Regions from separate parts of the Homo sapiens genome. Here regions 2, 3 and 4 are each linked to region 1. The links come from fine-mapping of genetic effects on gene expression. A gene starts in region 1. Each other region holds a variant in brackets. All regions are shown on one strand. Distances are from middle to middle.

Region 1 (7,884 bases):
TTTATCAAAAGATCATTCAAAGAAAACTTACCAAGTCTGCAACGTGTATATGCTTGTGCTTCGGAGGGAAAGCAGAGAAGCCACTTTCTGTACTTACACTGGAGTTCACTTCAGTGCTGAAAACACATCACTGTAGTCCTGCTTGTAATAAAGTCCGGACTAGCAATCTGCCTTTGGGTTGGGCTTTTCTCTTACAAGATAAGCTGTTAAGTCATGCCTTGATTTTAGATCTGCCAACATATGGAGTCTTCTAATGTAGCCTTCCCTCCACCCCCTCAACCCCCCCTGCCCGCATCCCCCCAATCCCCGCTCTGCTCCACTCCCTCTGCACACACACACATACACACATACAAAAAAGGCACTGCAGGGCAGAAATTCCTCAGGTGCTCGCTAATGGAATTCCCAGGGTCTTGGAGCCGCTTCGGGGATCAAGAGATCTCATAGCCCCCGCTGGGGTAAGGAGCAGCGAGTCTGTTCCATTTAATCAAATACAGAATGAATTTTCAGCTCTATTCACTAGCTTGTCTCCAGGGCTCTCAAAAGGCACCAGGCAGCTAGAATCACACACATGTGGCTCTTTTAGGCAAGTATAATTAGCTTGATTTTAAAAAGCCACATTAATAATATCACCTCAGGACCATTATTCAGGAGACAGATGACAATGATACTGTATGTTTTAAGCCTGACAATGGGGGAAAGAGCACAAGCAATGAGGGAAAACTTGAAGGATTAAAAAAAAAAAAACCAAGAAACCAGTTTTTCATTTAATTGTAATCCAATATTTTTCAAGTGACATTAAGAATATTCCATACACCATCCCTTCTTTTTAACAAAAAAGAATCAAGTAAAGCCCTCCCCTGTGCTGTTGAAAGTGAGTTAGTGCCAAATACACAACAAAAACTTATCACATGGAATGATTACATACAATATAAAAATTTAAGTAAAAATAAAACATTCTCAAATTCAAGTTCACGAAATTTCTTGAAAAAATTCCCCATTAAAAAATACTGTAAAAAAGCAAGTCCTTCAACTCAAAATATTTGGCAACCATACTCCAAATTCTGTTTCTAATCTAATTAGTTTGTATTAAGTTCATTTACTTAAAGGGGGGCTACCATGTACGCAGCTCATCTACAGCTCCACTGTATTGTCTTACCCATACTTCTACATCATGCCATAGCTGATCACAAGGCGCTGGCTCATATCATTACACGTTAAAGCAACACATTTTTCAACTCATTATTTATTTTCTAACGCTTCCCTGATTTTTACTACGATAATATTTAATTCCTGAAATCATTTCCCTAGTATTTAACTTCGAAACAATCACCAATTTTTAGTCTAAACGTTCGTGGAAAAAAAAAAATTCTACAGAAGGAAAATTTTACTTCAACTTACATTTCGACAAAACCATACATGAAATTGTCTACAAAGTCATGAAGGCAGATGGGCGAAGTGGGAAAATAAGAAGCAAGCCCAAGAAATAGTCAACAAATTTTTACCTGCTCTCTTTAGAACAAAGCCCTAGGACATTAGTTCCTATTCCTACCTACTGCCTTCAGCTGTATATACCCTGACGATCTGGAGGAGAAAGTCCTATCTTAAAGTGAACTTAATTCTTTTCCTGCAAAGTCAAACCACCTGCAAAGAAAGCAAGGCGTAAGCTAGATTTAGAAGCCAAGCTACACAAGCTAGATCAGTATCCAAGTCCTAAGGGTTCTTTGTACTTGAAGGCTTGAGAGTCAGAGCTGTTTAAGTACTTTGCACAGAAGAGGAGGCTGATGAGAACCATGGCAATCAATCAAAGCATCCCAAGTGAGTTATTACACAAACAACAGCACAGTACCTCTAGTAACTGATTCTCCTGGCTGACTAAACTATTCAAACAAAGACAGATTTCCCAAACACTGGGAAGTTTTTGCATGAAAGTTAAACAGTATACATTTGTGTGTTTCTTAATAGAAATATAAATGTTTCTGTTCTACACACTGCCAAACACACACCCAGGGCACGTCTTTACAAAATGAAACAGGTTTTCTCCATCCTTCTCATATAACTTCAAGTATGAGGCAGTTCATTCCAACATGTGCATAACAGAGACTGCAGTATTTGGTGCTTCTCGGGTTCCAAAGAATGCTTTCTAGTTAAGCACTAATTTAAAATTTCCAGAAAATTTTTTGAAGGTTTTCTTTCATCTTATCTTAAAAGTTGAACTATCCCCAAATTTTCAGCTAAAAATAGACTGAGGGTGGGGGAGAACTACAAAATGTCATAGAATGTTTAGAATTATGCTGACAATAAACTCATTTCATTTTCTAACACCCTCCCCACCTTCCTCTCCTTGGAGACACTGTCCACTAGGTATGCCAAGTGTCAGTTGGGAATTTGAGGGTTATGTTATCAGCGCCGAAAGGAATCAGAATTCACTGACTTGGCGTCTTTCATCTTTACTGGCATAGGCCTGAAAATAAATCTCATGTGAGCTTTTAGTCCAACCTCCTGTTTTTCAAGGTGTCTGGTTTGGGACACAAAGGCTGACTTTCTGTTGATGAGGTTCTCTAAATTCTGGATTCCCACTGGAAAGCAGTCTGCCCTTAAAGCACCTGCCACCCTCTGTCGTCCTGATGAGGAAGGGCAGGCATTCTGGAAACAGCTCCTTTTGGAGAGCCTTCCACCTGATTTGGTGGGGTTAGGGAGAACAATGAAGGGAAGGGCAAGAGAGTCTATCTATCCCCCTCAGTGATTTATTGCTGAAATTCCTAGATGTGGAGAGAAAGCAACAAAGGTCTGGAAGCTGCCGACTGAAATAAATAGCGAGCTGTAATGTATTTAGCAAATGATAATGCAATCCACAGAAAGCTTTACAGAGGAGAAGGAAAAATACACTCCCTGGGGCTGGGAAGTCAGTGAGTCTTGTGAAGGCAGAGAAAGATACATTGTGCAGGAAATTTCTCTTGCTTCTCCCTACACATAAATCACTGTCTCTCGCGGGCGCTCTGCAGGGATGGAGATTGAGAGAGGCCAGGGACCCGGCTCCCTTGGGAAAACGCGCGGGCGCCCTAGCTCCCCGCTCTGCGGCATCTCACCTGCCCCCGAGGACCATCGTCAAGAAGAGGTTTCGTCGTGTCACTGACACCTCACCCCGCCTCCTCCCGCGAGGTGCCTCCGAGCCCCCGAGGACGCGGAACGCCGGGGCTCCCCGCCGGGCAAGCATCAGCATCCAGACCCCGCACGCAGCCCTGCACCCCCACGCCCTCCAGGGAACGCCGGCCCGCCCGTCCCCGGGACCTCCCGTCCCCTAAGCCAAGGCCCCCCAAGCCCAGTGCCCGCGCGCCACCCCTCCCTCCGACCCTGCGGCGGGACCCCCACCCCCGCACCTCTCCGCGGGGCTGGCTAAGCCTCCAGACCTCCTGCGCTGCAGCCGGCTCGGAAAGCCACCCCCAGGTCATCCCCCCGCGCGCGCGCGGCGGCGGCTACGGTGGCGGCGGCTGCGATCCGAACGGGCCCCTCCATGCACCGCGCAGGGCAGAGGAGGGAGCGGCGCCTCGCACGCCGGGGCTGGGGCGCTGGGCAGGGCGGGCGGGCGTGGGGTCCCGGGTCTCCTCGCACCTAGCCGCGCGAGCCGGGCTCCCGGGCTCAGGGGAGGGGAGCTGAGGGGCGGAGTCACCGGGGCGCGCCCCCGCGGCTGCGCTCCTCCCCGCCGGGGAGCGCGGGCACGTAACTCGGAGGGTGCTGGGCCGGCCCGGAGCACGCGAGCAGCGGGAGGAGGGACCGGGGAATGACTGACGGAGGCGGGCCGTAGAGGCCGCTGTGCCCCGCCGGCCCGCACCCGGCCGGAGTGTGCGCGCGCAGCCTGCCAGATCAGCGGCGGGGGCACGGGCCGTACCAAGTGACGGAGGGGGGCACGCTCTGGGCAGGACCCTCTCCTCGTCATTGACCTGCCTACTCTGCAAGAGAGATACCCCAGGGGAGCATAGAAGAGGCTTTTCTTGGGTGTAGGACAGGTAAGGGTGAGTTGCCTTACCAAGTCACGGAGATTCCCATCATGCCTGCACTCACGCTCCCCTCACCTTTCATTCCCTTGGAGAGACGGCTCTTCTGGCAGGTCTCCAAATGGTCGACTCTGTCCCCCGAGGCCCCGCCCTAGCCTCGTTCGGGCCCCGCCCTAGCCTCGTTCGGGCCCCGCCCTAGCCTCGTTCAGGCCCCGCCCCTCGCCCCGCCCCGCCCCTCGCCTCTACCTAAGTTCTCTGAGCCGCCAACGGGTGCATCCCTTCTCCCGGTTCTTGCCTGGTCTCTCTTAGGGTTCCAGCGGCCCACCGCTTATACCTCCTTCGCCTTTCCACCACTTTCCATGTTTAATTCCTTAGGCAGCTTCATCTGATTCCCCCACCACCACCCACCCGCCCTGCCTGCACATAAACGCAAGCAGGTAGCAAAACTCAGGGGCTAGGAGAGGCGTGGTGTGAGCCTTTGGCCCCAGAGTCTTTCCAACTCGTCCGTTGGACCTGCCCCAAGTTATCTGAACTCAATGAACTTCAGTTGTTCAAACAGAAAAAGGAAAAATAAATTTCTATTCAAAATGTTGCTGTGAAGCGTAAATACGATACTTTGTGAAAAGCACCTGCCACTCAGTGGGCATTCAAGGACTGTAACTTCTTTATAAATTGTTATTATTAGCAGTTAGCTCTTTTTTTTCCCCATCATCATTACTTACTATTAGCTTAACTACAAAAGGATCCCTAATAATAGTTAAGTTTATAAATACTCAGTACTGAACTTCAGGAGAAATATGCCAGTCCTCCCTTACCTTCTTACGTGAATTTTAAAAAGAAATGCTTTGAAAGTGTGGTATTGTTCAAGCAGGTTAGCTTTCTGCATTAGCTAGATTCAGGGTTTTTGTAAAGCCCCTGGAAAGAAAGTCAGTACAGGACGGAAAAAAAAAACACAATTTTTTTTCTTAAGACGGAGTCTCACTCTGTCGCCCAGGCTGGGGTGCTCTTGTTGCCCAGGCTGGAGTGCAATGGTGCGATCTTGGCTCACTGCAACCTCCGCCTCCCGAGTGCAAGCGATTCTCCTGCCTCAGCCTCCCAAGTAGCTGGGATTACAGCACGTGCCACCACACCCGGCTAATTTTTGTATTTTCAGTAGAAACGGGGTTTTGCCATGTTGGCCAGGTTGGTCTTGAACTCCTGACCTCAGATGATTCTCCCGCCTTGGCCTCCCAAAGTGCTGGGATTACAGGCGTGAGCCACCACACCCAGCCAGAAAAAAACTCTTAACTCTAGTTTGTCCTCCACTGTTCTATTGTTCACTTTTGGAGACCAAGAATCTATATGTTATTAACAAGCTATGGTAAACGATTTTTCATTCGGCAAGTAAGTCTTTCTATAGAGGATTTAACTGAAATGAGAGTTTTGTGTGGATGTTAATAGAAGTCTTGCAAATTTATTGTGGCTACAGAGAATTCCAGGTTCTTCTCCTGGGACATAATGCACTTTGTGCACCTCCAGATCTCACAGTGCCATTTGAATTCACTATGCCTACTGTTACTCATAGTCAGACTAAGAAAAAAATCACAATGTTTGTTGATATTAATTACTTCCTCTCCCCCTTTTTTTGTAAAGCAGAGAAATCATTTCAGGTGTAAAACAGTTTTTCATTAATGAATCATTCATCCATTTGTTCAACATTAAGAAACAATGTGCAGTCCCAAGCTTCAAAGAGCTCACAGTCTAACTGTGATACAGACACACACGTGGGTAAGTACAAGGAGACATCTTCAGTGCAATGAACAGGGAGCTGTGTGAACACAAGGTCAGTATAGTATTGAGTATAGTATTAAGAGGTGATAGTATTAAGAGGTGATAGTATTAAGAGGTGATAGTATTAAGAGGTGATAGTATTAAGAGGTGATAGTATTAAGAGGTGATAGTATTAAGAGGTGATAGTATTAAGAGGTGATAGTATTAAGAGGTGATAGTATTAAGAGGTGATAGTATTAAGAGGTGATAGTATTAAGAGGTGATAGTATTAAGAGGTGATAGTATTAAGAGGTGGAGACTTTAGAAGCTGACTAAGTCATGAGGACCACCCTCATGAGCAAGATTCATGACCTTATAAAAGGGCTTCAAGGAGCTAGCTAGCCCCTTCTGTCCCTTCTGCCGTGGGAGGACACAGAGAGGTCATCATCTGTAAGGAGTAGGCACTTACCAGACCCTGAATCTGCAGGCACCTTGATCTTGGATTTCCCAACCTCCATAACTATGAGAAATAAATTTCTGTTGCTTAAAGAGTACCCAATCTAAGGCATTTTGTTATAGCAGCAGAAACAGACTAAGACACTATGGGGCCTCCAACCACAGATGTCCACTATGTAGAGAACTCCAAGTGGAAATACGGATTTAAACGTCATCAGCATAAAGTAGTGTTTATACCATTAAAGTGGAAGCGATCTCTCAGGAATAATATGGAACCAGAAAGTTGTAGCCAAGGATGGATCTCTAAAACTCCAATAACTAAAGCCCCCAATTATCTTGATGAATTTGGAGCAAAGGCTGTTTACTGAACTCAAGGTATGGGACTTGAAAAGGATGCTTGAAGAAGGTGGTGAAGGTTTGGAATAGTCATTAGGAAAAATGAGAGTTGAAAAATGAAAGTAGAAAATCACTCAGAGAATTGATAAGTGATGCTGAGGGCCTGGCTGAGGTTGGAGACCATTAATGTATGGTGATGGAGCTTGCATGATTATGTGGTTTTCTCCATCAAAATTTAATCAGTCAGGTAGAAGGGGAAAAGCATAACACCAACCCAATTTTGAAGTTTTTCTGGAAGTTGTACAAGAAGGAAAATAACACACGGTATTGGTAAGAAAATTTTTAAAACAGCAATCATAGAATCCAGGCAGTGGAAAAGGTGTAAGAGGTTTGAGAAGAATAATAGACTGGAAAAATTACAAATTAAAGAAAAGGAGATATGTATGACATTAAAGAGCTGTTGTTACAGGATTGAGTAAGAAAGAACCAAGAAGTCTTTGGTAATAACCAGAGTTTACCATTTCAGAAGTAGAACAGTTCCAAGTAATGATTAGATCTAGTATGTTTACCGGTGCTGGTGGACGATGTGGATGATTTATGCCGTCAGGGGACATATTGAAGGAACTGAGAGGCTGATAAATGAAATACCATGAGCCAAGTACTCAAGTCCTCAGGGATGAGGTGGGAAGGTTGTTAGATACTAAGTGACATTTAATACATTCCAGGCCTGAAGTGGGTGCTTTTATAATACTCAATACATGTTAAAATTGGTTCTCCAAGGCCGGGCGCGGTGGCTCACACCTGTAATCCCAGCACTTTGAGAGGCCGAGGCGGGCAGATCATGAGGTCAGGAGATCAAGACCATCCTGGCTGACATGGTGAAACCCCGTCTGTACTAAAAATACAAACAATCAGCCAGGCGTGATGGTGGGTGCCTACAGTCCCAGCTACTCGGGAGGCTGAGGCAGGAGAATGGCATGAACCCAGGAGGCGGAGCTTGCAGTGAGCCGAGATCCCATCACTGCACTCCAGCCTGGGCGACAGAGCAAGACGCCATCTCAAAAACAAAAACAAAAATGGTTCTCCAAGAATAACATAATAGAGTAACTAGAGTCCATAAACTTGTATCACATTCTGACTGTACCTTATTTGATCTTGGTCAAATAACTTAAACTCTTGGAGTCTTGATTTCATCATTTGTAAAGTTGTAAATGACTTCATCATTTGTAAAGAGTAATAATACCTCATATAGAGTTGTTAATAGGACCTACTTCAGTGGTTTGCTAGGAGGATTAATTGAGATGATACACACAAAGCACTTAATACAGTGATTGGCAAGTAGCAAACACTG
Region 2 (7,884 bases), 31 kb before region 1:
TAATTTTTGTATTTTTAGTAGAGATCGGGTTTTGCCATGTTGGCCAGGTTGGTCTCGAACTCCTGGCCTCAAGCAATCCACCTGCCTCAGCCTCCCAAAGTGCTAGGATTACAGGCATGAGCCACTGCTCCTGGCCCTTATTAAAATTCTTCATAAATAAAACTTTTAACAGCTGCGGAGAATTTATTTATTTATTTATTTATTTATTTATTTATTTATTATGTCTTGTATTTTAGTCTACTTAACCATTCTCTTTTGGATAGTTAGGCTACATTTTTATATATGTGTATATGTATGTGTGTGTGTGTATATATATATATATGTTACTTTTTTGCTATTCTAGATAACACTCTATGAATATTTTGTCCATAAATCTTAAACCACTCTTCTAATTATGCCCTTAGGACATTTTTAGGAATAGAATTATTGGATCAGGGAGTGCAAACATTTTCAAGACTCTTAATACATATTGTCAAGTCGTGTTCCAAAAAGAGGCCCCCAATAGCCAACCCCATCCCTCACAACCAAAATTGGCACATGAAGGTAACTCCCCATCACTGACATATGGTTTAGATCCTCACACTGTGGTAAGCAAAGTGTGGATACGAATCTTGACTTTGAGTAATGAACTAAAATACTTGCTAAGGCATAAAGCAACTTTCACTCTCTATTAGGGATTTTTTTAAACAATATTCTAAAGTTACATAAAAGTAACTGGAAAAAGAATGTAAGGCATGGGCATTGCAGGCCATATTCATCAAACCTTGTCAATCCTTGAACTTCCAATGACAAAAAACAACGTGGACACAAAATCTCGCTTTTTACCCATAATCTATTATATAGTAGAATAAGGAGTTACTGTCATTACACCGTGTGGTTTTAACTCATTACACATGTTTCTCAAAATAAATTTGTATGCAAAAATTGCTGACACTCTAAGGGAATATTTGCTGACATTCAAAACAGTAAATTGCCATTCATTTCAAAACCGTATTCTCCCTTTCTTACTGCTTTTCTTGTCCATGTAACATATATATATATATATGTATCTCTATTTCCCTAATCTACTAGAGGTAATAAAATCAGTGAAGAGGTTAGAATTTGAATTTGATTCCTTATGTGAAAAACAGAAGTGACGGGCTCATCGAACCCAGTGGTCTCAAATGGAATTAGCATGACCACGAGAAAGTTCTTCCATCTCCTTCCCATCTTCATATAAAGCTAGTGGCCAACACAATTCCATTCTTTTCACCGACATTCTGAGTGGGTGATTTGTCTGAGAAGATGCTTAGTGGTCCCTTTGCTCTCAGGAAAGCGCCTGGTAGTACAGTCTCTCCGGAAAAAGATTGTAGAACATGCACACACACAAACACACAAAATGCAGCTAAGTGTAGTAAAACCATTAAACCATCTACAAAGCAGGACAACTTATTGCTCAATGCTGTAAAAATCTCTGGAGGCTCCCCAGTCTCATGTGGCACAAGTACTGCTCCCAAAGTCCAAATGTCACTAAACAACAGCTGGTGTTTCCTAAGTTATAAGGCTTTCTTTAAGCCTTTCTCCCACATCCACATAGAAGGCAATCTGTCCTATAAGCTCTACTTTATATGCCATGCCAAGCTTAGAGCATTTCTGTGGGCAGAGGGAAGCTAAAGGTATACCTCATCTTAGAATAAGAAAGGAAATACTTTCCTAACGTTTACTTAACTTATTGTTCAGGTTGTGAACTTATTGCTTTTATAACCCCTTTTCAACATGCTGCCAGAATAATCCTTTGGGAAAAGTCTTTCCTGAATTTCTAGATTTGATTACTTTGTTTTTGAAGCAACGCCTTTGCTTTCATAAGGATGATGAAGGCTGTCTTTCTGAATCATTCCTCTTCCTAGCCTCCTATTTCAAACTTTCTTGTAGTTTTCTTTCAAGCTTAGGAAATAACTGTGATTAATTTGTGAACAAAAACTTGGCTTTGAGATCAGTTATAGTTCTTCAAAATAGGAAATTATTTAAGTTAGATTCCGTTTTTTAAAAAGAATCTTATTCTGTATGAAACATGGTAATTTCCTTTTTTAAAACAATGATTCATCTCGATTTTCAAACAATCTATCTCAAAATATGCTATTGATCAGCTAAGAAAAAATTATTTTCAGAACTACAAAGAAAAACTAAAACATGTCTACTTAAAAATTCTTCATTAAGTACTATCAAGATTAGTGCAGTCCAATTTCAATTATGGAAGTCAAATATAGTATATACTGTTTTTTAACCCATTGGGCTACCTTGACCTTAACCACAGGCAACTTTAAATCTCCTGTCAGTTTTCTTCATTCTGAATATTTAATTTAACTAAGAAGTTAACATCATTTCCTACACAAACTTCTCAAATAACTCTGCTTTTCAAGTAAGTATTCATTCAATCAAACCATTTAATACATAGAACATCTACTTTGGGCAAGAACCTATGAGGGGTGCAAAGATATACCAAACTAAAGGAAACTGCTCAACTAAGAAGGGCACGAACATAATTATCTCCAGAATAAAGAAAAAAGTCTTAAATGCAATAAGAGAGTAAAAAGTATTGAAAGAGTTCAAAGCAGAGGAATTCATCTTTTATTCAGTAAATACTTGGTGCATGCTTACTATATACCAGGCACTGAGCTATCCTGGAAACTCAACCATGAATAAAAGAGACACAGTGTCTGCCCACATGAGGCTTACAACCAGGTGAGGACATGTGACAAGTAAGGAAGCAATTAAAATACAGACTCGTCTAACATGGGAATGGCTCAGATAGCAACTTTTTGCAATAATGGCTCTTAGAAAGTTATTTCACTTTTTTTAAAATACAGCTTCGTTTTATTCAGTACAACTTTTCCAATCAGAAACTAAAGAAAACACTCTAAAAAGTGATATTATAGCTTCAGGCAAAGCTGCACACACCAATTTATATAATACCACAGTTTTTAGACTTTACACCACGTCACGTAGAAAAAAGTGAATTGCTTGCTGTGTTTGGATGACCTCAAACATTGTGCTTTGTGTTCAGATGCCAACTGAGGGGGAGGACAGTGGGCATTCTCCTGATCTTCTGTGAGATTCCACTAATTAGTGAGATTCTACTAATCTTCTGTCTGCAGTGTGTGTGCACCATTTCCGCGAGTTGTGAAACACTCTTGTGTTGAGCTTTTGTTTTGCCATAAGGTGATTTTAAGTGCTTTTATTTTCTAAGTGCAGTTTGAATGCGAGGTAACTACGAGCCTTAAGATGACTTCCAGTGTCCAAAAATCCATTTCCTGACTCTACACCACCCGTGAAGGAATTGCTCACCATTCCTCTTTCACCAGCCTCAAGGCTTCTCTTCCTCCTTTGACAAGCATAATAAACTCAGTGCATTTTATTTAAGAACAAACTGGATTTATTTACTTTTAAAGTATCTTTTACCATCTCTACAAATGTGCTTTCACTGCTCCATTGACATGTTTTTCTATCTGTGAAATCTGGCTATCTTGGATTGGGACAGAACATATCATGACTCTTTCCATGAAAAGCAATAGACATGCTTTACACTAAAAGGCAGAATTTTTAGGAAATAAAGGTTTTCAGAGATTAAAGCAGTTACATGAGAAAGGGACAGGTAAGCAACAGAATAAAGCAAATACAGGTGCTCCAGGAAAAAGAGAAGGCTCACTTAACCTAGATTTGTACTTGGAGAGGTGAAGACTTCTCAGAGGAAA[CAACT/C]GACTAGGTGAAATCAGAGGGATACGTTTGGGGGATGGAGTAGAGGAAGGGAGGAAGAGAAGGAAGGAAGTATCTCAAGCAGAAGGAACAGTGTGTTTGTAGAATCAGAGTAAGGATGTCTGGGCTGGAAAATACAGTAAGAAGAGAAGGATAAGACACAGTGAGGGGAAAGCAACATAAATGAGCAGAAACAAGAGTGTAAAGAACAATATAAATCATATTAAAGTGTTTGGCTTTTATTCTGAGAGGAGGGTGTCAAAGGCTTTTAAGCAGGCAAGGACATGATCAGTCCCGTACCTTTGAAAAATCGCTGACACTGCAATGTGGAAAACAGTTGAGGATAAGAGAAGTTAGAAGGCTATGGTGAGAGATACGGGGACCTGTACTGGAGAAATATCACGGGATAAATTTGAAAGGTTTTTCAAAAATTTTTAAGACACGGTCATATTTAAAAGACGTAAGAGGCCAGGAGCGGTGGCATACACCTATAATCCCAGCACTTTGGGAGGCCAAGGTGGGTGGATCACTTGAGCACAGAAATTCCAAGACCAGCCTGGGCAACATAGGGAGATCCCATCTCTACCAAAAATACAAAAATTATCCAGGTGTGGTGGTGCACACCTGTAGTCCCAGCTACTTGGGAGGATGAGGTGGGAGGATCCCTGGAGCCCAGGAGGTTGAGGCTGCAGTGAGCTATGATCGCACCACTGTACTCCTAGCCTGGGTGACAGAGTGAGGCCCTGTGATCAACAGGACTTTGATAATGAATGAGTTGGACTGGAAAAGAATAGACCACTAGGACCTAGGACATCTTTGGAATCCATTCATCTGTCCACTGCTCTATTTCCCCACTGCTGTGACTGTAAATAAGGAATCGAGGCTGCTGTCCAGACTTCTGACTCAGACAAGTGAGTGAGTGGATGATGTGCATTTACTGAGATGGGAGCAGCAGGGTCTTCTGTGGTCTGCTGCTGCTGTTTGAGGTGGTAGAGGGAATGGAGAGCGTCTGAAGGTGTGGAGATAACAAGAGGAGCTGGAGGTAAGTGGGGTTCTAAGGAAGGTTGGGCAGGCAAGCAGAAAGAAGCCTGAAGCTCTTAAGAGATTTGGGTCGCAGATGACACTCTGGTGGGCAACAGCAGACACACGGAACTATGGCTCAGGCTGAATCCCAAAACTATCATGCTTGAAGGGACAGAAACTCCTCATTCAAAATAAACCACACTATCAATACTACTAATGAAAAAGTTTTAAAGCAAAAAAAAGGAAAAGACAGAAATGATATTCCAGGGATGGAGTCAAACAGTCAGACTTTAAAAATGAGTTTCTTAATGTGATTTAATTTCACATTTCACACTGTTATACCTTTCCAAGGTACTACAGTGTAGGGTAATCAGACACATTCCTTCATGCTTACTAAAGGCTTTGATTAGGGACGGTCTTCATGCTGTCCACAGGGGTTCTCCCAAAATGAGAGTAACAGCTGGCATACATCTTCCATGATTCTACAGGAGGAAAGGAGAGGCAAACAGAGTGCTACAAGTCTAGTCGCAACAAACATACTATCTAATAGCATGCTACTCTCTGGGGCGTATGGGGGTTCTTTTAGAAACTTAAGAATTTCTTAAAGCAGTCATGTGCAATTAACAATGATGTATCTTCTGACCTGCCGCATCACTCCCAGTCCATAGGAGGAACATATAAATCTCATCAAAGTAAAGTTGCAGGATCTCAGACACCAAGGCCCCCTGCCAATCACTGGGAGTGCTCTCTTCCTGCCAGGATGAAGCCCCTGGGTGTGAAATGCAGCTTTCCACAGTACTTACTTTATAAGCACTTATTAATGATCGTGCAATCATTCAGATCAACTTAAAAAAAAAAAAGTTCACACCTACAGACTTCGCAACCCTTCCCCCACTTCTCCCAAGTCTCAGTCGAGTCAGCCAAGCATACAAACGATCCTGCTGCCTGCGAAAGCATTTCCTTTCACCGTGGACTGCCAAAAGTAGAGGAAGAAAATGGAAGTGACTTGGAGTTATGGCACCAAAAAGGCCAAATGAGCAAAGAAATAATCAACTCCACATGAGCCTCTTCAGCTCCAACACAATGAAAAGGGCCCAGGACGAACCCCAGGAAAGGTCACTGAGATCAAGGGTCACACGCAGAAAAAGGCAACAGTGAGGGGCTGCCAGCTGCAACAGGAATCAATGTGGTCCTAATTACACCAAAGGAGAGGGGGCAAAAGCTCAGTTAGGTTCTATTCACAATATTTGTGTGTTTAAAAAAAAAAGTCAAGTGTTCCTGTTCCACTCTCTTTCTAAGAGACTATTTCTTCCTGCCACTAGAGCACAGGAAGCCAAGAATTGTGAAGATAATCCTGGCATCCACAGTGGGTTGTACAGGAGCATTATAAATATTTAAAAGCATAGCTGCATACAAATGGTGAAATTCTAAAAAGCAGCGTGAGAGAGATTATTAAAAAGACAAAATATAGAAAATTTCAAGGGGATTATTTTGCAAGTCCCATGGAGTCAACACTTCCACAAATCCAGCACTTGGTAGCTTTTCAAGTTTGTCACTGGAATTGGCTTTATGGGAAAAAATAACCGTTATGGTAACCACAAAACAAATGCTAAAAGCTAAGTTTGCTAAGAACTAGCTATTGCAAAGATGTAGACACACATTTGACTAACTTCTGCTGGAGGATGAGCAGGAGGAATATGGAAACATTTGAAAAAGTGCCCCATATAGGTGTTAGGTAATATAATTAACGTAGTTGTTAACAGGTCCAGCGCTTTGCTTAGACCCTACTGACTTATGCACTGGACTAACCTAAGTATAAGAGTTTCCCTGGCAGTTACAAAAGACTCACCCTCATGGGGTTTGGCTTAGATTCCATTTTAATAACAAGGAAAAAATCCTCAAGGAGAAACTCATTTCCATGAAGTACATTATTCAAATATACACAGTCAAGCATTGAAAAGGCAGATAAGAAAAAAACAAATCTTGGAAAAGGATCTTTGCTGCAAATAAACTTGAATCAACGCTGGCTGAACACTGGGTCTCTGCCACAATGACTTTTACATTATCTTACCGTCAAGTTACGAGTTTCCTAGAGACCTAGAACATATTAATACTAGTTTCCAAGTACCTTATTCCATCTTTAAACTTGGCCACATAAAATAATGGAAGAAATCTAGATTTCTTATCAGCCCCTGCTTTGTTCAAACTGGTAATGGGAATTAGGTCAGACACAGCTTCATCAAAGCTGTCATCCTACCATGGAAGAGAGGCTGTGCATTGATAAAGGGGTTCTTCAAGCACATTCATAAGCTGACATACAAGTCAATCACAGATTACTATGCAGTTAGTACATAATTGGCACCAATTGACTGACAAGTCTAAAATTAAGTAAAAACACAAATTGGCCTATGTCAGGAAAACCTGCACCCTTGAAAACTCAAAATCAGTGCCAGGCAGTTAAAACCAAAGTAACCATCAGGATACAATGCCCTGATGAAACTAGAAAATAGAAAAACAAATCAATTAGGATCACAATATCTTTGTAAACATAACACAACATAGCATGAAGTTTTAGTCCAAGCAGAAAAGCCCGAGAAGTGGCCTTTGGCATCAGGTCCGGCCTGACTATCAAAAATAAAGCAAAGTTTGTTGGAACAACTCTGCTAGGCCACACATGCACGAAGCGGCAGTGGCCAGATTGTAACACAACACTGGCAGGATGGTCAAAGAAATAATTCACAGACACTGATACAGAAAAGGTACATACACACACATATAAATACACACATATGTATACATACTACTAAAAAAACACAGCCGCAGATAGACCCAACCTGGAACCCAGATAAAACTTATTCCAATGATGCTTCTCTGTGCAAAACATAATCCCTTATTAATTATTTTTGGTATCAATGTATAAAGCAGGCATGAATATTCTCATTATGATTACATCTGATTTTTAAACACATATAGTCTTAACTCCAACATTATGACCCAATTTATTCATTAATGACTATTTCCAAAAAATCAATTTCCAAAAAATCAAGAACATCAAACACTTTCTTTAATGTACCACAAGCAATAAAGGTAATTTTAAAAGGACTCCAAATTTCTTGGCACAACAAGAGT
Region 3 (7,884 bases), 61 kb before region 1:
ATTACCCAGCCTCACGTATTCCTTTATAGCAACACAAACAGGCTAACACAACAAGCAATCTTGTGGTTGTAACTGGCTTCCCACTTGGTTCCTACAAGGAAAGAATGCTGACAGAAATAATCCGGTCTGTATGACAGTGACATTGCAAATTTGTAATTGCCATTCTGCTTTGCCTTGATCATCTGTGAACTGGATAGACATGAGCCGGTTTTTGAGAGACCAGTGATCTTTTGGCATGCTGACAATCAAGTTTCTAGAGCTGGAATGTGGAGGGCCAACTCTGGGCCATGGTGACGCTAGTTACTTTGAGAAAGCCACTAGGGAGCCCCATCTCTAGCCCATGCCATGCTCCTCAATTGAGCAACACCCTTCCACCTCAACATGTCTTCAACCCACCATACAAATACATACGAAAGAAGAAAATAAAGTTGAATGTGGTATTTGTATGGAGAAAACTGTAGCATTTAAAAAAAATAAATTGCTTAAGGGATAAAAGAGGAATGTATTCAAAGCAGGCAATGCTGAGTGATACTTACTGTATTCCTTTCAAGTTAGAAAGCAATGAAAACAGAATGAATAGTATGGTTAGTGAATCTTTTTTAATACTAGAAAAACCAAACAACTTCCTTATGTTGATTCGTCTGAAATCAAAACTCACCAAACACCACAGTTCAAATAGGAAAAAGAAAGTTATTGGGGAAAATGTCTGCACGGAAAATAATACCTTCCATATCTAAAAGAAATAGCATGTGACTGTTAACAAGGTAGAAAAGAAAGACGGCACTGGAGTTAGAAGCGGACTTGGGTAGCAAGCCGTTTCTCCACTTTCTGGACGATCTGAGGCATCGTGCATGGTTAACCTCCTCATGTGTCAGTTTCCTAATCTGTAAAACAGATGTGGAAATCTGTTCCTCATTAGGTTGTTTTGAATATTAAATAAATCTTTTCTTGTGGTTATTTCTTCTTGGACAACTCCAAACTCATCATTTCCAAAACTGAATCCATAATCTTCACCTAAAAACTCTTACTACTTATCTTGGTAAATGGTCTTCTGGTGCCCACACCCAATCCATCATCTTTCTCCTTCTCATTCAGTGTGGACTCCATTCCCTTAATCTCTCATACAGGTCCTCCCCTTCCTCCATCCACACTGTCACTCCCCTTATTTCTCTAGCCTTTTCTTTTGCTATTCCTCCCTTCTCCTTCTCTAACATCCTTTGGGGTTCACTATAGCTTTCAAGGAAAGATTCAACTTTGAAGCATATCACACAAGGCATTCCCCACAGTAACCAGTCACACTAAATAAAATCTCTAACCTCTCAATCTCTAAACATAATAGAACATATCAGCCACTTGTCGAGATGTCTTTGCTAGAAACTCTTTTGCTGTTTCATCTGTCTGTATCGTCGTTCTCCTTTGAAGTTTAGCTTATGATGCAGAGAAGCCTCTCTTATCTACTCACCCTTGTCTACACTGAGTGACTGACTTAGATATTTCTCGTGAACCCATAACACCAAGGGTATAATCTCGAGCATAAGCAATCAAAATTGTTATCAGTTTGTCTATATTATCCACATATTGTTAATGGGTTTAGGTATTTATATCATCCACTATACTGTAATTTTTTTAAAAAAATAGAAACAGGATCTCACTCTGTCACCCAGGCTGGAGTGCAGTGGAACAATCATAGCTCACTGCAGCCTCAAATTCCTGGGCTCAAGAGATCTGCCTGCCTCAGCCTCCTGAGTAGCTAGGACTACAGGTGTACCCCACCACACATGGCTACTTTTAAAATTTTTTGTAGATACTGGGTCTCACTACGTTGCTCAAGCAGTTCTCAAACTCCTGGACTCAAGCGATCCTCCTGTCTCAGCCTCCCAAAGCACTAGCATTACAGGCGTGAGCCACTGTGCACCACCATGCTAGGCCTATATTGTAAACTTCTTAAAGGCAAGGATTATTTTATCTTTGCTGTTCCAGCATTTTATACAGTATCTGCCAGAGGGTGTATAAAATAAATGGTAAGGTTTTTTTCAGACATTACTTTTATTCACATGAAATTAATACTCATATACGTAATCTGCTTAAGGTAGCTGAAACGTGCCTCAAAGATAAGAGCACTCAAGTAAAAGAGATTCATGATATTGAAGATACAGAGGTGCTTCGGAGGGAGTTCAAAGTGTTATAACCTGCTTTTGTCTGACATCAATTCATGGAAAACTGTAAAAATATGGAAGAGAAGTCTGAAAATTCTCAGAGCTTAGCAATGAAATTTTAAGTCTTCCCTAGATGTCCTGCCTGATGTTTTAGGACAATCACAAAAAGCACACCTGGCTATAAGTGTAGTGCTCATATAAGTGTGAAATTGAAATACTAAAAAAGTCTTTTGAAAATTATACAGCTAAGACCTTTAAAAACCATAAGATTAACTAGATATAGCAAAAAATAAAAATAAAAAGTAACATGTAATCCTTCAGTAAAATAACTTACCACAGGTACCACTATACATTTTGATGAGTCACACACATGAAAAGTGAGATTTTCAGAGTTCAAAATATAAATGTCCTTCTCTTACCAGAGAAGAAACAGAAAACTCCTTCCTTTTTCTTTTTTTTTTTTTTTGAGGTCTCACTCTGTCATCCAGGCTGGAGTGCGGTGGTGTGATCTCAGCTCACTACAACATCTTCCTCTCAGACTCAAGCGATCCTCCCACCTTGGCCTCCTGAGTAGCTGAGACTACAGGTGTGTGCCACCACACCCAGCTAATTTTTTTGAATTTTTAGTAGAGACAGGGTCTCCCCCTCTGTTGCCCAGGCTAGTCTCAAACTCCTAGTCTCAAGTGATCTGCCCACCTCAGCCTCCCACAGTGCCTAGCCACAAAACTCCTTTCTTGAGTTCTAAAAACTTAGTACCAGAACATTTTGAGTCAGAGTTAATGAAGTTAAGTACTAATCATGATACTGAGATGCTAAAGTTTAAATATAGGACATTAAAATTGTTGAAATAGAACCTAAAAGAACTGTATGGTAAGATATGAAAATAAACAAACACCCTATTCCACCCCACCTCCCAAAATCTGAAGCAGGTCAGTTATATTTGTAAAGAAACAATAAAATATTCTTCTTTTTACCTCCACTGTGCCTAGAGGAATCTGTAAGTACCACTCCAAAATTGTTGTTTGCAGCCTCTGAAACAACGGGATACTTAGGGATGCCCACGGGTGGAGAGGATGCCTGGGTGTTTTTTGATGACGCTGTTTTTTCTAGAAAGGTAAATAAACATATACAGTAACATAAGCATATATGTATGTAAAGTGGAAAAAAAAGAGTACTGTGAAACTTACCTGGTATGTGGTTATAAATTTATGAACTTATCAGACACAGCATCTAAATGTAAGACCTACTTCATAAATACTTAGCTGATCTGAGGAACTGACCAAAAATTACTTTGTTTTTTTCTAGTATCTTTAAAATAAAGCTAAAATGTCTTTCTTCATTCTAACTTTACGTATGCAAAAAAATAGGTGAAAAAGCCAAATGACTAAGTGTTCAAACTATTAGTCCATTTTTCTTTTTACTGTATATATTTCTTAATTCTAAGCTATAAAACTCACCATTAAAGAGCTTCTGCTAAGTTTTCTAAGGAAAAGCCTCACATTGTTTTAATATTTCAAGAGGCAAAAAGTGAAATTGATTTGTTAAAAACTGAAATGCATGATTACTCAGTATTTATAGGTCAGACTCCATGAACACCTAATGACTGATTATGAAAATGAACTCAAGATACATTTAAGATAGAAAGTACTCGTTATTTTTCTGGCCAGACTTAGTAATTAGATGAAAGGGTCTTTTTCAAAAGCCACTAGTTGGTTTCTTCTCAATCTTCATACCTCCTTTTCGTTACAGTGCCATACTAAAATACTCTTCCACCCAGTTCCCTTCTCTACCCACTAACGTCTCTTTGTTCATTTACAGCCAAGCCACGATGGCATCTTTTTTATCAAGCCTTCCCTCACAAGCCGCCCTGCAGAAAGAATATCCTTCCTCTGTGCTTCCCCAGCACTGTCCTTGGAAATCTCCTGTGGTACTTGGCATATTCTGGTCTCTTTGCCTACAATCCTGCCCACCTCCACACTATCCAGACTCCAGCCAGCTCAAATGTTCCAGCTCTTCTCAGCTCACTCAGAGGTAAAATCAAAGTCGTCCCAAGGTGGATGGTGTGCTGTGTGATGTGGACACCCCGTTGTTCCCTGGGATCTCTCCCCTACAGCCTCCTCACCCACGTTGCTCCCATCACAGCAGCCCCATCGTGTTCCTAGTGAACACCATGTACACCCAACCTTGGGCCCTGGCACTTGCCATCTCTGCTGGGAATGTTCTTTCTCTAGGGAGACACGTGGCTTTCTACTTCCCCTCCTTCATGTCTCTGCTCCGATGTCGACCGCTCATTGAGGACTTTTCTGGCCACCTGCTTAAACTGTTAACAACTCCTACCCCATATACTTCCTGTATCCACCCCCTAACTTATATCTCTGTTAACACCTTCTAATGTACTTATAACTTACGTGTAAGTCTCTCTCAACTAGAATGTAAGCTCTACAAGGCCACAAGTTTTGTCT[G/A]TTTTGCTTCTTGCCTAACATGTAAAAGGCATTCAATAAATATTAGCTGAACTGAATACTGTCTTGTAGTTGGTATTAAGTTACACATCTTAGCTTTCTTATCAAAGTATAAGCTCTGTCGGGATGGATCTCATTTTGACCATCTTCATTTTCCCTATATCATCTATCCTCATTGCCTTGTATAACATAAGCTTTCAAAAACATCTGTGGAATATTCTATAGAATAGGACAATACAATCACGTAAATGTGACCCCAAAATGGAAGGGGGAGGCTATAATAGGGTCGTTTAGTGAATTTACATATAGGAATTTCTACTATCCAAAAGAATTCTGGTTGGGCACAGTGGCTCACGCCTATAATCCCAGCACTTTGGGAGGCTGAGGTGGGCGGATCACGAGGTCAGGAGATCGAGACCATCCTGGCTAACACTGTGAAGCCCCGTCTCTACCAAAAATACAAAAAATTAGCCGGGCATGGTGGCACGCACCTGTAGTCACAGCTACTCGGGAGGCTGAGGCCGGAGAACTGCTTGAACCGGGGAGGCGGAGGTTGCAGTGAGCTGAGATTGTGCTACTGCACTCCAGCCTGCGTGACAGAGCAAGACTCCATCTCAAAAAAAATAAATTAATAATTCTCACTAATAAATTGACATCAGGGCAGCCAGCTCATTCCTCCAAAGGAAGCCCTCACTCACCTTTGCTGGTTCGGAAGGTAAGCATGGCAGGTTGGCCTTCACCTGCTGCGCTTCTTGCTACCATCAAGACTTCATAAAGACTAGATGGCTCCAGCTCAGCTAAATGGAGCTCATTTTCACTTCCTGGGACTCGAACCGTGTGCCAGCTTCCCAGCATGCCAACCCCATCATCCAGCTGCCCAAGAGAAAACACACCAGAAAAGAAAAGCAGGAGATGGAGGATAGGAAATCTTTCGGTCACATTTGATCAAAACTAGGATTCATTTAATTCTAGAAGAGTTTTAAGAAGTAATACAGCATGGTAAGTAAAAAAGACACAATACTTCTTCATATTAAGAAATAGAAGATCTGCTGCAAGAACGCTGCAATTCTCACTGTAGAAAGACTCCTGGCTCTGCATCTGACCACTAATGTGTGGCCTCAAGCAAGTTACTGCCCTCCCAGACTCTGTTTCCTTTACTTGTAATGGAAACAATGCCTTCTTTCTTCCTGGGCTAATGAAGAATAAAATAAGTATAAAATAATAGGTATCATTGGTAATTATATAATACACATAATAGATACATGGTAAATTAAGACAATATTATATTATGTTATATGTATATGAATTATATAATTATGTATATTTCCAGCATTCTTGCTTCATGTCTTGACACTGTTCAATATGTGTTAGAGGAAATAAAAAGATCTAATCAGTTGTTTCTTGATTAATGGAACCAAGAAACAATATTGCATGGAGGTATTAGGGTAGATGAGATTACTAGCAAAACTTCTTTATCTAGAATCATTCATCAGGTTGGAAATAGTACATAAACCTTAAAATATCATCATATTAAAATATCATCATGTTATTTTTCCTAGTCATTAAAAACATTACCATTCAACAATGTATACTAAAATTTCTTGGACAAAGAAAATGATTTTAAATATGGAATGCATCCCTCCCATTTCATTCATGTACTGGTCTCATTAAACAGAGAGGAGCTTTTCCATTCTGCTCCAACACAAGCCCATGGGGAAAATGATATTTGAAGAGTTAACTGAGAGAGGCCCAAGGTTTACCACCAAAAATGACCTAACAATGTATGACTTTAATACAATTAAAAAGGCAACTTGAAGCTGGGCACAGTGGCTCATGCCTGTAATCCCAGCACTTTGGGAGGATTAGGTGGTGGATCACTTGAGGTCAGGAGTTCAAGACCAGTCTGGCTAATATGGCAAAACCCCATCTCTACTAAAAATACAAAAAAATTAGCCAGGTGTGGTAGTGCATGCCTGCAATCCCAGCTACTTGGGAGGCTAAGGCACGAGAACTGCTGGAACCCGGGAGGCAGCAGTTGCAGTGAGACGAGATCACACCACTGCACTGTGGCCTGAGTAACAGAGCAAAACCCTGTCTCAAAAAAAAAAAAAAAAACAAACAAACAAACAAAAAAAAACTTGAAATGCAAACAATTGGCATAAATTATGCCAGAAACTCTGTTCAAACAGTTGTTTTTAATAAGAAACTGCTTTATTTGCTACATAAATGGTATTCTACTACCTTAGAGAGGGAAGGAATTTGTGTTTTAAAAGTGGTTATAGAGCTTTATGTTGAAGGGCTAAAACATTTGAATACACATGTAAAGACATCATTGGGTTCCTAGAATTCCAATTTGGGGGGAAATTATACTTCATTCTCAGTGCTTTCCTAGGATTGGTAAATCCAGCATGACTGGGATCTCTCTGACAAACTCATCAGTCTGGAAGACTCTTGTTCTGTTTCCTGCCATTCTACAAATGAAAAGGCAACAGTATATGTTATACAAAGAACGTTCAGGTGTGAGCCGAGAAAGATGATAAACGACAAGACATTACCTTTCGATACTTCACAAAGTAAGCATTGATGGGCAGCCCACCATCCTTGCCTGCCCTCCACACCAGGTTGTACGTGTCTGGTGTGTGGGTCTGTGGGGGGCTCAGTATGATGGGGGCATCAGGAACAGAGATGCCGCTGGCGTTTTTCTCTGGTGCTGATTCCACTGCACTGGGATGGACCTTCACCGGAAATGAGCTCAGTAACCCAGTTTCTGAACCATCTCTCTTACTTCTGTCATCATTCTGAGCAGCATCAGGAAGTGTGACTGTCTCTGCTTTTGTATTTGTTTCAAAAGGAACTGCAGGGAGAGAGAGAGGAGACAGCTTGAAGATACTCCTCATTTCATTGTCTTCTACCCAGTTTGTGACGTGACTGCCCTCACTTGTATTGTTAGCACAATTTGAGCCCCAGAAGTTAAAACGGGTAACACTGCCATTTATAATTCATGGAAATGTTTAACCTCTAATTGCAATCTTTTCTCATGGTGGAGCAAATGAATTACTTGAAAAACCAATTATATGATGCAATAGTGTAGCAGTTAAACGTTCTTATTTTTTCCTTGTTCTCTAAGAGTATTCTTTTTAGTAATAATCATTTGCCAGTTTAACCTCAGAAGATTTCAAGTTGGCCAGGCATGGTGGCTGACACCTGTAATCCCAGAACTTTGGGAGGCCGAGGCAGGGGAATCACTTGAGCCCAGCAGTTCAAGACCA
Region 4 (7,884 bases), 87 kb before region 1:
AGGATTTCTTGATTAGGTCTCTGGTGTAAGGAACTGGCTCTCTGCAAAGCTGCCTTAAATATGCTTCTTTCTAGGCATTCATAGTGAGCTTTACATATTACTCTTAAAAACTGCAAAGGGGTCAGGCGCGGTAGCTCGCGCCTGTAATCTCAGAACATTGGGAGGCCGAGGCGGGCAGATCACATGAGGCCAGGAGTGCGAGACCAGCCTAGCCAACATGGCAAAACTCCGTCTCTACTAAAAATACAAAAAAATTAGCCAGCCATGGTGCCACACGCCTGTAATTCCAGCTACTAAGGAGGCTGAGGCATGAGAATCGCTTGAACCCAGGAAGCGGCGTTGCAGTGAGCCAAGACTACACCACTGCACTCCAGCCTGGGTACTGGAGTGAGACTCTGTCTCAAAAAAAACAAAAGAAAATCAAAAGAAACTAAAAAGGATTCAAGGTCATGGAACCCAGTGAGGCAAGCGGTCATTTACAGCATGTCACAAGAGCCCCAGAATCAACTACAACTTCCCCACAGATCTATACAGTGCACCCTCCCCTCACCTGCTCTCAACTTTTCACATCATACTCTCATTTACATAATAGAGGCAACGTTTTCCCTCCAGATGGTTATTACTAAAATAGATGGGTGATAAAAGGGGTCAAGGGTTGGCAATGTTTCTTAAAAGCTCACTCCAAGAAATATGCTTAAGTTTACAACTGAGAAGGCAGAGAAAAAAGAACCTGGAGTGGCAGGGCACAGAGCAGGTAAGAGTCCGTACGGAAAAGGCCCCATGCAAGACTTCTCCAGTTCTCAGTATCTGTGGAATAAAGAAGGCGAATTGCAGAGGCACCACCAGATCTCAGAGGACAACTCTCCAGAAGTATACTGTGGGGCAGCTCCTCTTCATCTCCTGCAGTGTTCTCTGCCTCAGTGACTGCGCCCAGACACCTAGACATCATCTTCAACTGCTTCCTCCACTGGCCTCTTCAACCAATTACTTGGTCTTTTTTTTTTTTTTTTTTTTTTTTAAATCCCTCAGACTCATTCAGACTCATCTCCTTCTAAATCCTAATTCTCTCAAAATTCTTCTCTTTCTCTCCCTACAACTATGCTAGTCTACTGTTTCTCATCTGGACTACTGCAACTGCCATCTAACTGGTCTCCAGGTATCCTCTCCTGCCCCATCCAATTTAGTCTCCAAACTGCATCCAGAGTGTTCTTTAAAAACCCAAATTCAGCTGGGCATGGTGGCTCATGCCTGTAATCCCAGCACTTTGGGAGGCCAAGACGGGTGGATCATGAGGTTAGGAGTTCAAGATCAGCCTGACTGACATGGTGAAACCCCGTCTCTACTAAAAATGCAAAAAATTAGCCGGGCGTGGTGGCGGGCACCTGTAATCCCAGCTACTTGGGAGGCTGAGGCAGAGAATTGCTTGAACCCGGGAGGTGGAGGTTGCAGTGAGCCAAGATCGTGCCACTGCACTCCAGCCTGGGCAACAGAGTGAGACTCCATCTCAGAAAACAAAAACAAAAACAAAAACGAATTCCTGCTTAAAACCATCCACAGATGTGCCATGGCTCTGTGTGATCTGATTTCACTCGCCTTTTAATTCTGACTCCTCCAGTTACTAGGTTTCTGCTATGTTGGCCTTCTTTAAGTTCTTTGAGGATTCAGGCATTCTGTTTTAGAGATTGTGTATAAATGGTCCCCTTTGCCTGGAAAGCTCTAAACTTATTTCCTTCCCTTAGACCTAATTTTATAAATCTTCAGAGCTCAGCAAAATGCCACTTGCTTACAGAGGGCTTTCCTCTCTCCCACATTCTTTACTTTTCCTTTAAAGCATCCAGATTTAATTACATATTCATTTTTATTATTTATGTCATTTTTTTTTTCTTTTGAGACAGAGTTTCGCTCTTGTTGCCCAGCCTGGAGTGCAGTGGCGTGATCTTGGCTCATTGCAACCTCTGCCTCCCGGGTTCAAGTGATTCTTCTGCTTCATCCTCCGGTGTAGCTGGGATTACAGACACTTGCCACCATGCCCAGCTAATTTTTGTATTTTTAGTAGAGATGGGGTTTCACCACATTGGCCAGGTTGGTCTCAAACTCCTGACCTCAGGTGATCCGCCCGCCATAGCCTCCCAAAGTGCTGGGATTACAGGCGTGAGCCACTGCACCCCGCCGATTTATGTCATTTTCTTAAAAGATATGTCTCCCCTATTAAACTCTAAGCTCCACGCAGGCAGGAGCAATGCCTGTTATGCTCACTGCCATATCCCCAGTACCTAGTTTGGTGCTTGGCTCACTAGAGACCTGCAGCAAACATTTGTAGGTAGGTAGGTAGGTAGGTAGGTAGGAAGGAAGGAAGGAAGGAAGGAAGGGAGGGAGGGAGGGAGGGAGGGAGGGAGGGAGGGAGGGAATTCTTTTTTTCTTTTTTACTCTCCTTATTTTATCATTCTCCTTTTCCCATCTCTGTTATTCTCTGAAGATGTATTAAGGCAGTAAGAAAAAATAACAAAAGATATGATGTCTTATAAAAAGAATGTCTAATCACTTTAAATACATAATAAAAGCAAATAAATGCATCAAATAATTAAATATATAAAAATAATCAATCTGCCAAGGATATTGTCTCCTTTGGTGTCTCATCTGTTTTTAAGTTCTATTACTTGGATAGAACTTAAAATGGTCCTAAATCTGTATCACAGTTCCATTCTACCCCCTGAAGCCAAGACCAGCATTTTCATCTTTCTCCTTAAGATATCAACTCATACTTCAACTCTAAAACCAAATTTATCACCTTTTTATGATGTATCATTTTATTAAGTTTCTTATTACTATGACTACCACCCAGATCATCCATGTTTGAAACTTCTTACACATCTGGAATCTTCTGTTTTTCTAGATCCCTGTCAGTCAATGGCCAAGTCCTGAAGACTCCATGTCTGCAGTCTCACTCATCCCTTCCTCTTCATCCCCATTCCCCATGTCTCACTGATCCCCTCCCTCCCTTCCCTCCTGTGCACTGCCATCTTTCATCCAGCCTGAGCATATCTCTGAACAGATCATTCCTGTTCTCAATAAGCTTTGCAACAATTATGATGCTGCTACCCCAGTGTTTCTCAACATTTAACGCATATCCCCTTTTGATTAATATAAAAATTGCATACCCTTGTATACATAGACATTACAGACATAGAGATTTTTTTCTATTCTTTAAATATAAAATTATAAAACTCAACGTGCTTCTTCAAACTCTACTCACTATATCCCTACCTCTGTCTGAGAATCACTATTGTTAGACTATGGACTCTCTGAAGGCAGGGCCTAGGCCAGTACCCAGTACATGACAGGCACTCAATAAAAGGCCTTGTTTATTAAATAAACTTGCTTATTTAATAAATAATATTTAATAGGACTATTATTAAGTAATAGGACTTGTTTATTAAATAAACTACTAAACCTTCACATTCAGGGTTATCCACTATATAAACTCAGTCCAGTTGTCCAATTTCAATATCCTACTATTCTCTAGTTGCACTTCACAGCCGATCAAATTATTCCAGCGGTTCTCAAAGCATGGTCCCAGGACCATGGGCATCAGTACCATCTGCGAACTCATTAGAAATGCAAATTCTCAGGCCCCACCCTAGACCTGCTGAATGGGAAACTCTGGTCTAAGAATAGGAGTGGGAGTAGAGCCTAGTAATGTGCGTTTTTATTAAGTGTTTCAAGTGATGCACGCTAAAGTTTGAGAACCACTGAAGTCGCCTATTCATTCTTATGTAAACATTATCCTTTCTACGTCCATGACTGTTCTTACATTCCTTCTACGGGGAAACACCTCAGAACCTAGTCCAGAGCCTGGGTAGTGCTCAGTAAATGTTTGTTTTGTTTTGTTTGACTGAACAGCCAAAAATCATATGAGGCCCACTTGATAGCCCTCATATAACTTAACTGAAATCACGCTTCTTTTTATGTTTACACTATTTCAGCTGATATTCAGAAATGCAAACTCATTCATAGTAACAATGTCGATATTCTAAAAGCATAAATTGACTATAATTTTCTATATTTTGAGAGTAAACCACGTATCATCTACCTTTCGGCATTCACAGCTTTTTACAAATTTTGTCATTTGTAAGATCTTAAGAGGAGATACCTGTTCTCAATTCCAAAGTGAAAAGACTTAAAATCTTTAAATTTAATAATTCAAATTTTCTAGAGCTGAAGGTAGGTACTTATTGATACTTATCTGTCCAATTATTGAGTGTCAAAATCATACAGTTGCTCCTGGGAGCCAGGTGAGACACTGGCTAACCTTGAAGGCAATGCAGGCAAGTAAAGACTTGCACTAAACAGGCAGATTCTCATGAGGAAGAAAA[T/C]TGAAACCAGGAAGAAAAAGAATCTGGTGTTCCAAGCTGAAGAGAATTCACCTAAATTCCCAGATAACAGTAAAACCCACACACATGAAATGTAGTAAGTCATTAACTTGAAAATTAATAGAAATACAATTGTTCATTGTCTTAAAGGAAAAAAAAACTGTATAATAAAAACTTGAAAATACTAAAATACTACATACACACACATGCACACACACACACAAACACACACACACACACACACTACACATACAAATAGCCACAAAGCCAAGGTCATTTAAATGGCAGAGGTCATATAAGTCCTTCTAAGGAAATGGGATGCATTCTTGATATTAAGATGATACTTCATCAAAAAGACATGATTGGCAGGAAATTGCCAGAGACTACCGTCAGATTATGTTGGGAGCAATCTTACATTACCTAGGACAATTTTCCCCTTTTTAGTTAAGGAAATAGCTTCAGAAACATTACGTTACTTTCGCAAGATCACAGGTTTAAGCTATGTCACAGCCCAGGTCTACTTATTCTTAGACCAGAGATCCTGTCGTTATACCATTCTATTGTCCAGGAGAACCAAGATCTGCTGATGACCAAGAACCACAAAAGAAAACACGTTAAAATTTTAAGCAAGACCACTTGTAACTAAATCCGTCTGATTACTCGCCAGGTACATGAACCACCTTTACCAGGTCTTTAGCACGTTGCCTAACAAACTACGGTAAAGTCCATGAAAAGCTCAAGACAAAAATGTGGTTTCAATGTTATGAACATTTGCAAAACCAGGGTCATATAGAATTTAAATACGTAACAAGCAAACCTTAGTACATAAAAGAAGCAGATGGCTCTTTTATAGACACCCTGAAATGGGTTAAGTAAATGATAACAAACAATCTCCAAGAAGCTCTGTTGCTTTTGTTCTGCAACTCTCAAAACACAGGCTGGAACAACGTATTTTTAATTTGATGGTTGGCCTGATCCTTCTTCAAGTTCTGGTTTCAATAACTCCCAGAGACAACTCTTAACCTGTTAATCCATTTTAAATATATAGGTCAAACATCATTTCAATAATAAAATATCTAAACTCCCACCCATACTCCAGTTATTTTATGTACTAACTATGACATAATCTTTTTGGTTGTAGAGTTTTAGGACTGAGAAGGAAGGACTTTTGACACCATGTAATTCAATAACATCATTATGTAAAAGAAAGAACTAAGATTTCTGAAACAACTTTAATACAACAAAAAGCTTGGTAATCCTTGGGATTACCATAGAGAGAGGTCGTAGGAAAGTGTGCCGAGTATCCTATGTGTTAAATGCACATTGCTCTCCATATTTCTATCTTGTTTGAAATATTGTGAGTACATACCACTTTTAAAATTAAAACACAAAATTCAAAGCAAGGGTTTGCTGCTTAATTTTCTTAAGATTTTAAGAATTAAAAAAAAACACTGGATAATCTGGTAGGAAAATTTCAGTAACATTACTGTGAAAAAAATTACTATATACAGAGGGTTCCCCCCTCCCCCCAACACTCAGAAACACTGTCATTCATCCTCATAACATCCCATAACATAGAGTAGAAAATAAAAGGTGAGAAAAGATAAAGTCTTTATAACAGAGAATGACTCTAATTTAAAATTTTCAAAAACATTAAGCCTTATAATAATATTTCAGTGACAAATAGAGCCTTTAAGATGGTTTCTATATAGCTGAAGAAACCGAGGCACAAAAAGACAAAAATTGGAAAGCAGAGGCAAAAAATTAGTAACAGCTTTAAATTTAAGATTGCAAATCCTGAACTTTATATCCTAGGTAAAATTCCAAGAACTTTCTTTGCTGAAGGGAAAAATAAAAGGATGCATATGCCTTATTCACAACAGCTTGTGCAGACACATTATTAACATACCTATTGTTGTTTCGACAATTTCGGCAGTTAACACACTCCAGAGGGTCAATCTGAGGCACGGCCGTGTACATTCCACCACCCTGGACAGGAAGGAGTGTCAGAGAAAAAGAAAAGAAGAAGGAATGCTGAAGGTACTCACAGACCAGTAGCCAAATAATCACAAATACACATGAGCCATGTCAACCATAAATGGGCACACAGTATATTCTAACCAACTCCCAGAGCAACGTCATTGTGAATATCACTGACCCATATTCACAAAGGAGTGAATGAGAGTTCTGCATTAGATTTAACTGTATTCCAAAAACTTCACTGCCATGTTTTCCTACGTATTTCTGTACTAGACAAAGGTAAATAAATGAAGGGAAAAGTTTAGTCACTTCCCTTCAAATCTAGTGGGCTCAAAATACATTATATGTTATAGCCTCCATTCATTTTCCCTTTCTTGGCAGTCAGGGAAGAATTTCATGTGATACCAGTTGGAGAAACAGGGTGTAAAACCTGTGTAGATGATGTCACATGATAAACTCATCTTCATTTTCCTGTAATTATTTCAATTAGGTCTGTTCACTTGACAACGCTAAGTTTTAAAGCATGCTATATTTTTCCAGATGGAGTAGATCTTCAGCCAGCAATGACTTGGAGGGGGTGTGTTAATATTTGGATGTTGCTTTTGGCGGAAACTGCCCAGCAATTAAGAAAAATGCCCAGATTAACACATACCTCATTGTAAAATGTTCACTTGACAGACAGCAAGGTTCTTCAAAAATGAAGTTAAAAATTAAACTAGCCTGATAGTCAGAGGCAGAATTCTGCTTTCAGAAGAAAAACAGCAGAACTGAATTTGATAAAAGGTGGGAGAGGCTGTCACACTGCACCCAAACCCAAAGCAGGCCTTCAAGGTTAGGAAAAGTTCAGGCAATTGTTTTTCCTAGAATACTTTCCATTTCCATTCATTTCATAACAGTAGCCAGAATCTAAGCAAACCAAAAGTCCTGAAAATTTCCTTCAGTGTTTCTGATCCAACCAGCAACAGGAATTATTAAGAACATATCGAGAGAAAGAACTCTCCTATACTATATTCCATCTGAGGGAAAACCTGAAAGGCTCAGAAAATGAAGTTCACAACCTGCAGGGTAACGTTGTGACTTACGGATTCTCTGAATCCCTCAACACGTTGAAGTTAGTGCAATGATTTTTAGGGTCACTAACACTGTTAAAATTTCTCTATTTCCCCCACCCAGAAAAGTAAGAAAACGAATAATTTAGAATCACAGATAACTTCTGACATTGTACACCAAATGGGGCACCTATTATTTAAATAGAAATTCATTGTTCAAAAAACCCAAGGTTCCGTGTTCAAACACTAAAGCGAACATGGGCCTTATGTTTTCTTCTTATGGAAACAGTGTGTGCTATTCAAATGTTAATGCTCTCTCCTTCAGTTTTCTTGGACAATGGTAGTAGTTTGGACTAGGAATGGTGACCAAAAAAGCTTAGAAAGTCTGAATACATGCTGTATCTTTCCACACAAAATAGTGAAATCATGATTCTCTTTTAGTAATGAGATGCATTAAAGCAAATTAATATTTCTTCCACAACATA

Which allele goes with the higher level. Alleles are on the strand shown, and positions count from the first base shown. SD is a standard deviation of normalised expression in the study named. Not every link is listed here.
For the expression in cerebellum of the gene that starts at base 3,665 in region 1, allele T in region 4 goes with a lower level than allele C (large effect, 0.88 SD a copy in GTEx).

The links. PIP is the estimated chance that this variant, and not a neighbour inherited with it, causes the effect.
Region 2: its variant is fine-mapped to the expression of CDON in whole blood (TOPMed, PIP above 0.99).
Region 3: its variant is fine-mapped to the expression of CDON in sun-exposed skin (GTEx, PIP 0.95).
Region 4: its variant is fine-mapped to the expression of CDON in cerebellum (GTEx, PIP above 0.99). The same link has a PIP of 0.9 or more in cerebellar hemisphere.

Annotation. Positions count from the first base shown.
Region 1 is chr11:126,059,202-126,067,085 of GRCh38, forward strand. CDON (cell adhesion associated, oncogene regulated) reads right to left here and starts at 3,665. Exons shown (of 20, transcript NM_001378964.1): 1 at 3,378-3,665. RefSeq lists an enhancer at 1-1,222 and silencers at 3,423-4,092, 4,163-4,252.
Region 2 is chr11:126,028,527-126,036,410 of GRCh38, forward strand. All of the region lies in intron 1 of CDON (cell adhesion associated, oncogene regulated), which reads right to left. Among named protein-coding and RNA genes, the nearest start is that of CDON, 30 kb to the right of the region's middle. The variant CAACT/C (reference allele first, on the strand shown) is at 3,732.
Region 3 is chr11:125,998,589-126,006,472 of GRCh38, forward strand. CDON (cell adhesion associated, oncogene regulated) reads right to left here. Exons shown (of 20, transcript NM_001378964.1): 9 at 7,171-7,469; 10 at 5,314-5,488; 11 at 3,131-3,262. Among named protein-coding and RNA genes, the nearest start is that of VSIG10L2, 56 kb to the left of the region's middle. The variant G/A (reference allele first, on the strand shown) is at 4,619.
Region 4 is chr11:125,972,025-125,979,908 of GRCh38, forward strand. CDON (cell adhesion associated, oncogene regulated) reads right to left here. Exons shown (of 20, transcript NM_001378964.1): 18 at 6,280-6,359. Among named protein-coding and RNA genes, the nearest start is that of VSIG10L2, 30 kb to the left of the region's middle. The variant T/C (reference allele first, on the strand shown) is at 4,374.